Linked DNA regions of Homo sapiens: region 2 is linked to region 1. Evidence: fine-mapped expression QTL. Tissue or cell type: prefrontal cortex. Region 1 holds a variant in brackets; the other region holds the start of a gene. All regions are shown on one strand. Distances are between the middles of the regions.

Region 1 (8,103 bases):
GAGATGCCAGGGAGCACGGAGACGTGCAGCAGATACTCACAAATGAAAGAATTAAATCAGAGTCTCTGCCGTGCTTCGAAAAGATGGCTACAGGCGGGCAGGCCTTTCCATCTACATTTTACAGACGAGCAAGCTGAGGCTAAGAGAGGTCCCACAGTCAAGACAGACAAGGCAGACCACAGACCCGCGCTGGTGCCCACACCCACCTCCTTCCATTCCACACACTCCACAAATGCTTTCTAGTTTTTGAATGACTGTCTACGTCTTTCTCATCACATTGTTGACTATAGTCAATGCCTTGCGATGTTATCATTTATGTGTCCTATTAAAAAGGCGGCATCAGATTTGAAGAGTCTGCAAATGAGCCTGTTTTCACACTTCTTAAAAATGGACAGCACGCTGTTGGGTTGATTCACAGAGGAAATAAACAAGCAAATCACACTAGGTGGGAATTCCACCAGTGAGTGGAACGAGGAACTCTAAGAAATTTTGAACTTGAACTCTAAGAAATCTTAATTTTTCTTCCTATTCTTTAAGAATTCTAGAACTAGGAAAAACCTATAGGGATTTCCATTTTCTCACACCACCAAAAGAGATGGGGAGAAAACAAACAAAATCTGAATTCAGTGAGAGCTCTGCCATTTCATCCAACACTGGAGACCTCTCATCCAGAGCCGCTGTCCAGCAGACAGGTCCCAGGACCCTGCTGAACTGGAGACAGCTGTCTCCATAAGCACAGGCAGCCTCAAAGCTCAGAAGCCAAGAAAGACATGCAGACAGGGACAAGTAGGCTGAGGGCAGCCATCCCTCACCTTCTGTCCCCAGCTCCTCATCCTCGTTGTCTGTGCTGCTCAGCTTCTCAGCATCACTCTCCAAGGCCTCGTTCCTAGCCCCCTTCTCCAAGGGAACCTCGTTGCTCACAAAGTAGGCAGCCAGGCCCAGCTCCTGCTCCAAGGCTGTTCTCACCAAGCAGGAGGAGTTTATCAATCGCAGGTCACAGTACCTCAAAGACCTAGCAAGACACAGAAGAAGGTGTCTGTTTAGTGCCTTCCACAAGTGGAGTGCTGTTCCCACTGCGGCAGGCAGCACTGATCGGGACCACACCCCACCTTCCTGGTGAGGACCCAAGGACTCGTACAAGTGGAAAAGCCAACAGTGTTACTGGGAGCTTGCAGCAACAAATTCAGTATAATAGTAAATCTTTGGGGACACCCACTATGCATTTAGCTCTGTGCTGCACTAACTTTTGGGTCAGATAAAAAAGGGGCTTGCAGCACTTTGGGAGGCCGAGGCGGGCGGATCACAAGGTCAGGAGATCGAGACCATCCTGGCTAACACGGTGAAACCCCGTCTCTACTAAAAATACAAAAAATGAGCCAGGCGTGGTGGCGGGCGCCTGTAGTCCCAGCTACTCGGGAGGCTGAGGCAGGAGAATGGAGTGAACCCGGGAGGCAGAGCTTGCCGTGAGCCGAGATTGTGTCACTGCAATCCAGCCGGGGCGACAGAGCCAGACTCCATCTCAAAACAAAACAAACAACAACAACAACAACAAAAAGGGGGGGCTTGAACCTGAGCTCTGCTACTTCCTAGCGACAGAAGCCGTGACAAGCTGCACAACTTCTCTGAGGCTCTGATTTTTTCATCTGAAAGATGGGAATGAATATTAATAACCATCTGGCTGGGCGTGGTGGCTCACACCTGTAATCCCAGCACTTTGAGAGGCGAAGGCGGGCCGATCACTTGAGGTCAGGAGTTCAAGACCAGCCTAACCAACATGGCAAAACCCCATCTCTACTAAAAATACAAAAATTAGCCGGGTGTGGAGGCAGGTGCCTATAATCCCAGCTCCTCGGGAGGCTGAGGCAGGAGAATCACTTGAACCCAGGAGGCGGAGTCTGCAGTGAGTTGAGATTGCACCACTGCACTCCAGCCTGGGCAACAGAGTGAGACTCCGTCTCAAAAAAAAAAAAAAAAAAATCTAAGTCCGCTGTGATAAAGATTAAATGTAATCAGTGAGCATTTAATTATTCAATCCAAGTGAACACAGGCCAGGGTACTAGATGCTAGAAATATGATGGCAATCAAGTCGGACACCAACAAGCAATGCTATCTGTGAGCAGCAGAGGAAAGGCCAACCCCGTGCTCAGACTTGCGCAGCAGAAACACAACCAAGGCAAAGGGCTTAGAGAGGGGTACGTGAGGGTTCCAGTGGGGCTCTGAAACTTACTGCTCATGACCTCAAGCAAATGATCGTTCATTGACTCAACCATGAAACAGGATGGTAATACTACTGCAGCAAGGAGTAAGTTTCATATGAAAAGTCTATCATGATGCCTGGTACAAAGAAGGTACCAGAAGGTACCTGGTATTCAGCAAATGCTTGCTAAAATTTAAAATAGATTAAGACATTGTCTCAGTCCTTAAGGAGTTGAAGAAGAAAAGAATTAATCCATGTGAAATAGCAACAAGCAAGGTCAAATGTTCTGGAGCCCCCTTCCCCTGGCCCATGAGTATGCAGCATGCACAGGGCCGTTTGCTGAAGTGTGGGGTGCTCCTGGGGGAAGAAGCCAGGCCCACTGCTGGCCAGACTGGCTTAATCTCAGTAAGCCTCAGTTTCTTCATCCGTAAAATGGGACTACTGAAATAGCACCTTTCCCCCAGGATTAAGGTGAGAGTAAAATGAAATAAAACCTAAAAGAAGAATCTAGGACAGTTCCCAGAACATAACAGGAATTCCACTGATGTCGGCTTTTGCTATCTTTTGCTGGCCGTCTGCTCTTCTCCACCGGTATGAAGTCTCTAAAACCCAATCTGTCACTACCAATCCAAGAAACTGCCTTACAGGAGGCCCAGGGACCTGAGTCTCGAGTGTCCGCATGTCTGTGTGGTGGCCTAGAGACCCCCCACACCAGCGGACATCGAGTGGATATGTGGCTAAGACTTTCCAGGCTGTGATGGATTCAGAGGGACACATCTTTTGAGACAGTCCACTCTGTGCTGGAAGAACCAGCTCTTCCCGAGCAGCGTCAGTTGCCTCCACTCCCAGAACGCCTCCTAAGCCGGGAGGGCCCAGGCATTGCGGCAGCCTAGGTACCAGCAGGAACTGTGGCTGCAACTCCTGGAGAGGATGCCGTACTGTCCCAAGCAGAACTGCCATCCCCAGCACACACAGAGCGCCCCATGGGGAGACACTGAACTCAGGAGGCATGAAATCCTGACTCCACCTGCAGAGCCTCCACCCGTAGAGCCTGGCAACAGCCGTCACCACGAGCCCAAACAGCGCCTTTCTGAGAATCAGGAGAAGGGGCACGGGCCTCAGACGCACTCAGGCCCATGCTGGGAAAGCCACGATGAAGGCCCCACCCACGGGGCCTGTGAATGTGAGTGGTGCTGCCTACCGTCAGGGCACAGCAGCCCCCCTGACATGCTCCTTGAGGGGGCCCAGGCAGCCAGCTCCTCAGAGACCCCCAGGGGCATAACCCCTCCACTCACCTCGGCAAGGACTCCCCATGCGGGTCCATCCCACTGAAGATCAGGATGCAAGGCAGACCCTCCAGCTCCAAGTAAGTCTGGGGTCTCCACTCCACATCCTCAATTTTCTGCCACATCTGCAGATAACGAAAAAGAAATAAAGCCACAGACGCCTCCCTTCCCAACCAGCCCAGCTCAGAGGAATCCTGATGGCCTCCCACACCAATTTAAACTCCTTGAACTATATCTTCTGACCAAAAGGAAATTTCTTTAGACTGCAAATAAGCACACCATCCACTTGGCCACCGTATTTTCAGTCGGCTAGAACATGGAGATTAGCCAGCCAGAGCATGTCCAAGACATCTCTATCAGCTGACCAGCTCCGTGAAAGGAAGTCTATGTTGTCAGCTGCTCCTTAAGTCTTTTTTTTTTTTTTTT[G/TTTG]AGACAGAGTCTCGCTGAGTCACCCAGGCTGGAGTGCAGTGGCGCAATCTCAGCTCACTGCAACCTCCACCACCAGGGTTCAAGTGATTCTCCTGCCTCAGCCTCCCGAGTAGCTGGGACTACAGGCGCACGCCACCCCATCTGGCTAATTGTTGTATTTTTAGTAGAGACAGGGTTTCTCCATGCTGGCCAGGCTTATCTCGAACTCCTGACCTCAAGTGATCCGCCCGCCTCGGCCTCCTAAAGTGCTGGGATTACAGGTGTAAGCCACCGCGCCCAACCAGCTGTTCCTTATGTCTTGCCTGTGCTCTCTCCTGACAGTGTCCTCCCTTTCATTCCTGTTTTCCACTCATTTGTTCTTTCCCTAAACCTTTTGCATTTTCTGTCACCTGCAGATTGAGTGAGAACCTACTATGGGCCAGGCGCTGTGCTAGGCTTTGGGGGCTGAGTTCTGTGGGGATGGCCATTGCCCCCCACCATCTGGGAGAGGGGCTAGATGACAGGCAGGGAGCATGGCACTGCCCTGGGCATGGCAGAGGGGGAGGGTGGCTTCCTGAAAGAGGAAAGACACCAACCTAAGTGCTGCAGAAAATAAGCAGGGCAGCTCACACCTGGAACCCAGCACTTTGGGAGGCTGAGGCAGGAGGGTTGCTTGAACTCAGGAGTTTGAGATCAGCCGGGGCAACATGGAGAAAATTTTAAAAATTTTAAAAATTAGCCGAGTGTGGTGGCACACGCTGGTGGTTCCAGCTACTCAGGAGCCTGAGGTGGGAGGATCCCTGGAGCCCAGGAGCTCAAGGCTGCAGTGAGCTGTGATCACGCCACCGCACTCCAGCCTGGGCCACAGAGTGAGACCCTGTCTCAAAGGGGAAAATAAAGAAGCATCAGCTAAACAAAGAAGAGAGGAAATGGATGCCCAGGAAAAAAGAAAGCAGGCTGTTGCCCAGAGGTCTAAAGTCATAAGGCAATGCTGCAGGGGTGTGGGGGTGCTGCTGGGGCGGAGGGCAGAGGTGGGGAAGCACAGAGAGGAGGCTGAGGGGTGGCTGGGTCTAGGGAAGCCACGTTGGCCACGCTGTGGGGTTCGTGACACTCCCTGCCTCTGGTGGGCCCCTCAGCTCTCCCAGGTACCCCCAGGCCCTCCGCCCCTCCCTGCGCACAGCACCTACCCTGAGCTGCTTTACGAAGTGCTTCCCCACGGTGACGCCTGAGCTGGGACTGCCCAGGATGATCTCAAAGTGCTCCTCCAGCGCCAGCCGGGCCCGCACGTGGGCCAGCCGCTCATAGGCCACCACCGCCAGGGGCGAACAGGGCACCCGCAGCAGGACCATGAGCCCGTGGCCGCAGGGGCACTGCTTCGGGGAGTTGAGGAGGTTCTGCGTGATCTCCAGCGTCTCCACCGACGTGTAGTTCTTCATCTGCGGGAGGCCGCTTACGGCCATCAGGGCGGCCGCGTAGTGCTGCACGAGAACAAAGGTCCTGATCACCGCGCTGTGCAGGCGGGGGAACCTGCAAGGAACACAGAGAGACCATGTCTGTGACGGCCGCGCCCACCGGCCTGCTGCTGCCAAGTCACCCAAGACATCCGTCACTCTACCACAGGCAACTCCGGCATTATACGCAGTTGTGTTGCCTCTGGAAGGTGGTTGTGGGAACCTGAATGAGAAGCCTTCTTTAGAAATCAAATTATACAGTCCTTTGTTTTTTCCAGCTGGAAAACAAAAACATAGGTTTGTTGTTATTACGTTTTTCCAGCATTTGGCACTTAGTAGCTGCTCAATAAATATTTGTCCAATGAATGAGCAGATGAATAAATGGTATAAATGCCTATTTTGTCTCTATCAGCACAATGTGCAGCTCTCTGAGGAGGGGACTAAGTTGCCTCTGGTTCCTACTAGAAACAGGAGAACCACCAGCAATCAATATGGAAATGCAGCTACCGGAGGCCCGAGTTCTAAAGGCCCATCTCTGTGTTCACTTCGATCACAGTGAATTATTAGAAATATAACTAAACGTATTTTGACAGACTAATTACAAATCAGAACATATCCAGCCAAATCAAGAATCCCAGTTTTTGCTTCAGAAACTGTGGTTACTATCTGTGTCCCCACACAAAGGTGGTGGCTGCTCCCACAACCACCTGCTCTCCTAGAGTGGCTCTGACCCGTTAGTCACACAGACCCCAGGGCACCAATGGAAAAGCCCAGGTCCCTGTAGATGATGGTGTTTCTCAACGTGAATAAATAAATTGGTATCCAGTTTATGCACAATGTTCTTCTGGGTTGATTGAGCTGGAATGGGTCCTCCTGACTCTGGCTTTTTGTAGCAAAGGTAAGGTAGTTTCTCGACCTACAAAAATGAGTACCATACCGTGGCCATGCCACCCTGTGAGTTCTATCAGGGCAGCCAGCTCGCCTTCCTACAGCACTTGATAGCATTTCTGACATTGCGATGACATCCCTGCTCCTTCTTCCTGACCATCCTCCTCCTTTTCTTCATGTTTCCTTCAGCACTTCATCCACTACGCAGGTCACATAAGCTGGAAGCTGGCCTGGCAAGCTTGCCATTACCAGGGCTGTCTAGGAAGGTATAACTGGTCCACAGACTCTGGCATGAAGGGGACTCAGCAGCCCAGGGACTGCTCTACCTACCCCTGGTGCACCTGTCAAATAATGCCCAGGAAACGGATTGCCTGAGGTCAGGAGTTTGAGGCCACCCTGGCCAACATGATGAAACCCTGCCTCTACTAAAAATACAAAAGTTAGTCAGGCATGGTGGCACACGCCTGTAATCCCAGCTACTTGGGAGGCTGAGGCAGGAGAATCGCTTGAACTCAGGAGATGGAGGTTGTGGCAAGCCAAGATCATGATCACCACTGCACTCCAGCCTGGGCCACAGAGCGAGACTCCATCTCTAAATAAATAAATAAATAAATAAATAAATAAATAAATAAAATAATAATGCCCAGGAAGAAAGAAAGAAAGTGCAGTAGGGAAAATGGGCTCTGCTCAAAGGACAGAGATTTCTGCTTCTGACAAGATGGAGCAACGGGATCAGGTTTATCCTCCCATCTGAAACAGCTGAAAAACTGAACACATAAATGAAACAACTGCATTTCAATACATGGGACATCAGGCAGTGAAAGACAGTGATCCTAACAATGTGAGACAAATTAGGTGAGTCCCCCAGCTTCTGCCTACAGTTTCTGGGATGTACTCAGGAAGAGGGAAGCCAGCCAAAGCTCGGTGGTCTCCCTGAGTTGAGGAGAGGTATCAGATTCCGGGAAAGCCAAGGCAGCTAGAGATCACAGGGCAAAGTACCAAAGAGGAGAGATCTGCAGAGGGTCTCCCTAAAGTCTTCAGTTGATATGAGCAGTGCACATATGTAAGGAAATGACCCAAAGCCAAAACAAGAATCCTTTGGTTGCAAACGAATTAAAGGGAACAATGTCTCAAGTTCATGTAGGGCTGGGAATAGTTCCTGTTTCCACAGCCAATATGGAACACCTCGGAGTCATGAAACATTGTAGAGTACTTACTCAGAGGATTTTGTCTCAGTAATGGGCAAAGTTAGCGCTACATTAAATACTGCTCTGGTCCTGACTAACAAAGTTTAAAACCAAGACCTGGAAGGATTAAACTGTGTGCAAGTAACTTAGTTGTATCACAAAAACACCTCAGTATTTATAGACATACAAATATATCTAGCACCCAACAAGGTAAAATTAACAACGTCTGGTATTCTCTCAAAAATTACCAGACATGTAAATAAGCAGGCAAATATGATCCATAATAAAGGGGGGGAACCAATTGATCAGTAGAAACTGACCTAGGAATGACACAGATGACAGAATTTGCAGACAGCAAAATTAAAACAATTATTGTAACTATATTCTATATGGTTAAAAATCTAGAGGAAAGACTGAACTTGTTGAGTGAAGATATAAAAATCACAAATTAAATTCTAGAGATGAAATCTTCAATGTCGTAGATAGAAAATAAACTAGACCCTGAATTCTCATGGGAGCTATGATCTTTGTATGTGACCTTGCCCTGCCAGCCACAATAGAGTGGTTCAGGTATGGAAACCCAACTCAGGCTGAGCCAGTCTTCTCTTGGGATTTTTCAAACAATAAGAAAGAATAAGTCCCCCTCTGGAATCTAGAGACCGTGAGGCTCAGCATCAAGCAGTGGTAAT
Region 2 (8,103 bases), 78 kb after region 1:
GTATATTTTATTTATAAATATATAAAATTTATATATTATTATATATTATATAAATATCATATATTTATCTAATATATGATATTTATGTAATATATAATATATAAAATATTTTTATATTTTTATATAATATATAAACTTATAACATGTTAAAATAGTATATACTATTTATTATATTTTTAGAGAAGGGAAGAGAGTTTAAGCAGTAGAGTTTTTAAGATGATGGGCTCTGGAGCCAGGTTTGGGTTTGAATCTTCACTTACTGGATATTAGACCTTGAGCAAGTTACTTAACCTTTATGTGCCTCAGTTTCCCCAACTGAAAAATGGGAGAAAAGTACTTGCTTCTTAGAGTTGTGTGGATTTAATAATTAGTATGTATAGGGTGCTTAGCATGGTACCTGGCACATATATAATATTATACATGCCAGGATAATAGTAACAATTCTTACCAATATGAAGCTTGCCACCTGTGAATAAATAAATTAAATGTGTAAAAGGGACTGAAAGAAAATGTCGGCCGGCGCGGTGGCTCACGACTGTTATCCCAGGACTTTGGGAAGCCAAGGCAGGCAAATCACCTGTGGTCAGGAGTTCAATCCCAGCCTAGCCAACATGGTGAAACCCCATGTCTACTAAAAAATGCAAAAATCAGCCAGGCGCGGTGGCGGGTGCCTGTAATCTCAGTTACTTGGGAGGATGAGGCAGGAGAATCTCTTGAACCCAGGAGGAGGAGGTTGCAATGAGCCACAATTCCAACACTGCACTCCAGCCTGGGCGACAAGAGTGAAACTCCATCTCAAAGAAAAATAAAAAAAAAGAAAATATCTATGGTACTTGCCTCTAAGAATTCAAGGTTTTTTAAAACATGCTTCTTTCAACTGTGCTGTAAATTGCTAACTTTTAAAATTGATGTAACTTACTATTATGAGGAGAAAATTAGCAAAGTTTGCCTTCATTAGGTGTGAATTGCAATGACTTTGAACCCACTATGCTTTCTAATTACTGTCAAAAATAGGCTTTTGATGTGAAAATAGCAATGAGGTACCTAAAGAGGAGAGAGCTCACCTCCAGTGTTAACTCCATCTGCTGTGCGGCTCTCTTCTCAGTTTAAATCTGCAATTCTTTGCTTAATGCCAGTATCTCTTCTTGCCATAAATCTCTTTGTTCTATTCTATACATAATGCTCTTCTACCCCTGGCCAAATCCTCTCCACATTAAACATGACAATCATAGCCACAGTTTGGCACTTTTTGGCATTTTTCTCTTTTTGGCCACAATGGCTAGGAGTGATAACTTTCAAAAAGCAGAAAAGTCTCTACCTATCCAACAAAATGCTCTAGAAACTATATAACCACCATTAATAAATAAATATGGCTTGGCTTTTACAAAATGTTTCCCTGAGAGGTTTCCAGATCACTAGAGAAGACAAAGCTTTACTGGGACAAATCATGCGGGGTTGGTGCTGCTGGCACTGCCTGGTTGCTGACTGCCTGGGGCACAAGCAGTGCCTCCGTATCCTGTCACACCTCCGACTCTGCACATGCTGTGTTCCCGCTGCCTCATCCCTCAAGACCCAGTTCAAGCATCTCTTCAATTGTGTGGTGGTTCTGACCTCCCGAAACTGAGCTGGGCATTCTCTTTGTGTCCCCACCACTCCTGTGTATGCTCCAGGCTTGCGGTGGTCTCCCAGGACCATGGTTAATCTGTGTGCTTCCCTCTCTCCCCTGCTGCCTGGGATCCCCAGGAGAGCAGAGAACATGCAGATGTACGCCCTTGGCCAATCACAGTGCCTAGGAAATAGAAGGTATCTGATAAGAGTTTATTTACAAGGTAGTGTTTGCATTTTACAGGGAAAAAAAAAAGAGTTCAGGGCAGCAAGAAGAAAGAAGATGAACAATTCCGACATCCATATCCAGGCAAAATGTAGACAGCCCAGAGATTTCAGAGATTTAGTGGGCACGGTCAGGAAGTGGGGAAGATAAAACAAATCATGTAAGTGGGGCTAATGCAACCTTTTTCTATACTCGTGAAAACCCAAGGACCCAAGCCTTCCCATCTAGTTAAAGACTTTCCTCAGCCTCTCCCCTTGAATCACCGAATCCTAGACTCTCAGACCTAGAAGTAACCAAAGAACTCAATCAATGTATTTCAATCAACACACACCTTATTTCTCTATTATTTATTTATTATTATTTTTTAAGTGTCATCCTGTGTGCCAGGCACTGGAAACTCGAAGAGTAAAGTCCTTTCCTTGTAAAAATGCTGTTTAATGGAAACAGACATTTAGATTATGGTATGAGAATTAACTTCTAATTCAACATGGTACCTGGCCCTTCCTGAGATGACCTTCAAAAGATACTGAATTAAAAATAAATAAATAAATAAATAAATAAGTGGGGTGAGGTATTTTAAGCCACAGTGATGAAAAGATGGAAGGGATGCCATTAGCTAACTAGAGGTTCAGGTTTCATAAACTTCCAGAAGCCAGACTAGAGAGGGAATGTGGAGCTGACACAGGAGAAGGGTGCATACCTGGGGGGACCAACTGGCCCTGAGGAAATGCAGAGACTCAGATACGCCAGACAAGTGTTGGGAGGAGTGCACAGCAGCGCTGGGACCAGGGGTCTTCTGTGAAATCCTGTCTACAGAGCAGGTAGCTCCTCTACCTCCCACCCCAGGGCCACATGCAGATCTCCCAGGAGCCAGGCGTTCACCCCAGGCAAAAAATACCGAAAGCTCTTCTGATACAAATTGAATCAACCAACAAGAACTAGAGCCGCTAACGCACAGTCTGGCATTCAGAGGCCTCCAGAATGCCAGCTGATTCTGTCCTGAGCACCCCAAAAGTGACACCTGCCAGACACCAGCGCCCCCTGTGGACACAACACTCCCAGTCAACCTTCTCTGCCTCACTCTTAAACACACATGAAAATCCAAGGGTCATGTAGCACTTAAGGAAGGAAACATGAAAACAACATCCAGGAGAAGAAACAGAAGAAAAGACACCAAAGCAATCAGAGAACAACCAGGTATATGTGAAGAAGAAGCACACATCCCCCTCTAATTACCATCCTCAGGAAGACTGAGGGCCACACTCTGTTTCCCAACCAACCCAATCACTGAGCCACTCAACAATCACACAAGAGGAGCTCTCACGGGTGAGCCTGTTGATCTGGCTTTACTGCTGAGGGGCCCCCAGGTAAACTGAAGAGCTGTGCAGAAAGGCTGGGGGTATGAAAGCCGCACGCTCCCCACTTCAGCACACAGGGTCAGCAAGAGTTGCAGTGATGTTCCCACATACAGTCAGTTCAGCTATAACGCTTGTTTTGAAACTGCAAATTTGTACGGACAGATTGACATATTACAGAACAATTTGAATACCTTGTGGGTTTTGTGTGTGCCTGGTGATTTCCTCTGCAAGAAACACAAAAGTAAGTTCAGAAAAATGGTGCCCAACTGACCCCAGCTGCTTGAGAATATACAAAAGGCGCACACACACCAGCCTCAAGCACCTACCACCTACCTCCAGTCACCACACGTGTTAAAAGCCATGTCCTTCCACACATGGTGTCAGAACTTTCCATAGGGCTCCAGGTCTCTGTCCTTCTTCCATTTGGCAGGTCCTCAAGAGCTGCAAGCCTTCCATTGAAAAAACTTTATTTCATTTACCTTTGCACTTTGAGGTAAAATCCCATCTCTACTGCAGTATTTATGTATCTCTTAACCATTTAGCATGTGTAAAACGGTGCTGCCCTTTTTATTAGGTTTTTATCTTTTTAAAAAATGTGTCATTGATGAAGTTTTTGAGAGCTGTTGCCCTAAGCCTGTATTCGTCATAAACCCTGCGGTTTTTATTGCCCAATCTTGCATGGTGCAATAATTTTTAGGAACACATATATCAAGTTATAGTAGAATTGATTATGTGTTTACATTTCTGCCTGCAAGCTACAATTTTCTCCTAGGGGAGAACATGGCGGGAGAGCATGGTGTGCAGATTCTAGTTTAGAAAATATGGTCCACACAACTGAATTTCACACCAGTCACCCCTAGTTCATTGTTTCTGGCTACCCCAAAACGTTCATCACCGGCTTGCCTTTCTCCCTGCACTAAGCTAGAATCTCAAAGAACCAATTGTTGGGTTTTGTTGGTAGCAATCTGTGTATCATCCATTTTTTCCTCCATCAAACACAAAATTAAATTCAAGCATAAATAATGAAATTGTTGTTCCCGGCTTCTGTTTACAGAGTCTCAGGGACGCTGTGGAGCTGGGTGTGCCTGGGTCCAGTCCCTGCCCCCTCACCCACCGGAGCTGTGTGACCTTGGACAGCCTCCCTCACTCCCTGAGCTCCAGTTTCCTCAGCCATAAACAGAGATAACAGTGCTGACTTCAAAGCTGACTTTGTGAGGATTAAATGAGATAATGTAGTAGAGTATTTAGTACTGTGGCTGGCACTTCAGTGTTTTCCCATTTATCTGTTTTTTTCAAGATGAGTGATCTCTTTGCTGATCATAAACATATTCCTCCATCTGTCTTGTGTTATTCGCCTGCATTGAAATCCCATCCCAATCCCCGTCTCTATTTGAAAGTGGAGCTTAAAAATTGCAAAAATGAATAATTGGGATGTGCAAAACCTCTTAACTTGTAGCACCAAGTTTTTTGTCTCATGTTGATCAGTCTCTCTCTTCTTGCATTTCTCTCCCATTAGTTTGGAGTTGCCATTCATTCCTTCATTTATTCATTCACTCAACAAACATTTATGGGTGCCTGGTATCTACTGGCTATGTGACTGACTTAACTTCCCAGAGCCTCAGTTTTCTTGGCAAAATGAAGATAATAATACCTCTATCATAAGGTTGTTGGAAGGCTTTCCATGACACCAGGACCGTAAAGCACCTTTTACACCGTCTGCCATATGGCAGGTGCTCAACAAAGGATATCTTTAAGCAGTATCATCACGATGACAATGGACAAGCCATATCCCTAACAGGGCTTAAACCTGGATAACAAGAACACTGTTTCCACTGCGCTAGTGGGGACAAGCACACACATCGCTGGGAAGATCTGCAAGCCTCCCTCCTCCCACAGACCCAAACATGCTGCTGCAAATGTCTCACTGGCTACAAAACAATGAGTCTGATTACGACCCACAGAAATGAAAAGGCAGCAAACTTGTTTAGGTATGATTCATCATTGTCTGCTGCGGCAATCAGAAGTATTTTGGTTGCTTCTAGGTCAGAATGACCCAGTTGCCACACTTTTTTTCACTGCTAAAGTTCGTAATGAACCTTTAAACAAAAACTAAAGGCGTAAGGAAAGATAACTACTTTGTGGCTTTTGCTCAAAGTGAGGACGTTATCAGCTCTGCCCTTCAGAAGCAAGCCCTGATCAAGGAAACCATTCACACTTGATTTTCTTTATTTTATTGGCCACAATTGAACATAGGTATAATTTTCATGAACCTCCCTCGCTCCAAGACCAGAGCTCCTAGGAAGTTGTCTTTCCCATCTGTTTCCCGGCCCCTACCAGAAATAAGTGCCATGAGAGTGTTGACTGATGAAGGGCTCCTATACGCGGGTTGATTTTCAAGCAGTTAAGAAGCAAGAATTAATGACTCGAATATATGATCTTTGCTAAACTCTTCAGGAATAAATGAACATTTCCCACTTTATTCTTGCTAATGTTGACTCCTTAGCAAAGATAATTTCAACATATTTAATATGGCATATTCAAATGACAGAAAGTACGAAACAATAGTAGAAAGCAGAGAAAAGTATATATAAAGAGAGAAAGCGGTATCATTCACATCTTTAACACCTAATCTAATTGTAATTTTCTTAAATGCATAGAAAAAAGACTGGGAGGAAATACACTAAAATGTTAACAGTGGGTATTTTAAAACAAGAATTAGGCGAGGTGCGGTGGTTCATGCGGTAATCCCAGCACTTTGGGAGGCCGAGACGGGTGGATCACTTCAGGTCAGGAGATCAAGACCAGCCCGGCCAACAGGGCGAAACCCTGTCCCTACTAAAAATACAAAAATTAGCTGGTCATGGTGGCAGGTGCCTATAATCCCAGCTACTTGGGAGGCTGATGCAGGAGAATCGCTTGAACCCGAGATGCCAAGGTTGCAGTGAGCCAAGATGGTGCCACTGTACTCCAGCCTGGATGACAGAGCAAGACTCTATCTCAAAATAATAATAATAATTAATTAATTAATTAAATGTTTAAAAATAAAATAAAAGCAAGAATTATACGCAATTTTTTTTTCTTGTTTCTAATCATCTGTATTTTCTAAATTTTTTACAAATGATCACATGCATTTTTTATAAACAGCTTTTTTGGGGTAAATTATAATCATGAAATTCCGTCAAGCTTGAATCTCTCTGTAGGCTGCACAACGTGGAACAGATGAAAGGAACCAAATGCTGGAGTCGCACCAACCTGGCTCTGCCTATCTCCAGCAGGCAAGTCACTTAACCTCTATACAATTAGTGGTCTGAACTAAACCAGCTCCTTGGCAGCCTAGGCTCTAGCTCAACATCTGCTTGTATGCGTCAAGCAACTACACTCCCACAGTAAACTGGGAACCTACTGGGAGCTAAATAGAAGCAAATATCCCCAGGCCTGGGTGACACTGACTGAGCTGACCTCCAGTACAGGGCCTGAGGCCACTCAGGAAGCAGCCAGGGCACCTGCCCACACCCTCCAAACAGGCCCACCTACCTAGGGAACTCTTTCTCCCTGGCACTAGGCTAGTTTTGGGGGGGTTAATGGAGTTATGGACTGGGATGGGCAGCCTTGTACAAAGGGCTTCTCTGGCCAGAGAGAGCCGGTGTCTGCTCCGCAAACACCAAACTTCCCCACCCTTCCTGGCCAGCCTCAGATCCTATTTCCCCCACACAGCCTTCCCACATTGGCCAACCCTCACTCTAACCCCTTTTTAAAAATTGTGTGTATTAAACTTAAGTAGATACAAAAGAATATTGGTATGTATGTTGCACAGACTCATGATATGATGAACACCATGCACCACATGCAGGTTCTGGTGAAGGTGCACTTCATCATCGTCTTTGAAGTCCCCTTCTTGTCCTCCATCCCTGCCCCCCATTAACTCACATCCTGAATTTTATGTTTATTTTTCCCTTGCTCTTCATGATTTTAACAACATGATGGATTTAATTGTAACTTAATTTTTTTTTTTTTTTTTTTTTGAGACCGAGTCTCGCTCTGTCCTCAGGCTGGAGAGCAGTGGTGCAATCTCAGCTCACTGCAACCTCCGCCTCCCGGTTCAAGCGATTCCCCTGCCTCAGCCTCCTGGTAACTTAACTTTTAACCTAAATTTTAACATAGATTTTACTTTTTTTTTTTTTCCTATTTGGCAAAGATCAACTTTAGTGTGCATAAGAATCACCTAGGGCCGGGCGCACTGGATCACACCTGTAATCCCAACACTTTGGGAGGCCAAAGTGGGTGGATCACTTGAGGCCAGGAGTTGGAGACCAGCCTGGGCAACCTGGTGAAACCCCATCTCTACAAAAAGTGCAAAAATTAGCTGGGTGTGGTGGCTTGCACCTGTAGTCCCAGCTACTAGGGAGGCTGAGGTGGGAGAATAGTTTGAGCCCAGGAGGTTGAGATTGCAGTGAGCCAAGATGGTGCCCCTGTCCTCCATCCAGCCTAGACAACAGAGTGAGACTCTGTCTCAGAAAAAAATAAAATAAAATAAAATAAAATAAAAAATCACCTAGGGGTCTTATTAAAATGCAGATTCTATTTCAGTACCTCTGGGCTACAGCCTCCAAATTTAGCATTTCTGACAAGCCAATTTAACTTAATTTTCATTTAACTTTTAAACTAAGAAACATATTGTTTCATTTTACATTTAGTTTTGTTTAGTTTTACATTTCTCAACTGTGTATGAATGGGCTCATGCTGTATGAATTTTCTAAGACTTGCTTTTCTGCCTCATACAATGTTCCTGAAGTTCATCCACAATGTTGCCTGTACCTGTGAGTCATTCACATTCAATGCTGTATAGTATTTTATGATATAAATATACCACTTTCTCTTCCCAATCTACATGTTATGTCTATTTGAGGTATTTCT

Alleles and levels. Alleles are on the strand shown, and positions count from the first base shown. SD is a standard deviation of normalised expression in the study named.
In carriers of allele TTTG in region 1, the expression in prefrontal cortex of the gene that starts at base 3,732 in region 2 tends to be higher than with G alone (moderate effect, 0.56 SD a copy in ROSMAP).

The links. PIP is the estimated chance that this variant, and not a neighbour inherited with it, causes the effect.
Region 2: it holds the start of GREB1, and the variant in region 1 is fine-mapped to the expression of GREB1 in prefrontal cortex (CommonMind, PIP 0.95).

What each region holds. Positions count from the first base shown.
Region 1 is chr2:11,608,000-11,616,102 of GRCh38, reverse strand. GREB1 (growth regulating estrogen receptor binding 1) reads right to left here. Exons shown (of 33, transcript NM_014668.4): 18 at 5,076-5,415; 19 at 3,493-3,608; 20 at 813-1,012. Among named protein-coding and RNA genes, the nearest start is that of NTSR2, 58 kb to the left of the region's middle. The variant G/TTTG (reference allele first, on the strand shown) is at 3,910.
Region 2 is chr2:11,529,674-11,537,776 of GRCh38, reverse strand. It overlaps GREB1 (growth regulating estrogen receptor binding 1), which reads right to left and starts at 3,732. Exons shown (of 33, transcript NM_014668.4): 1 at 3,523-3,732.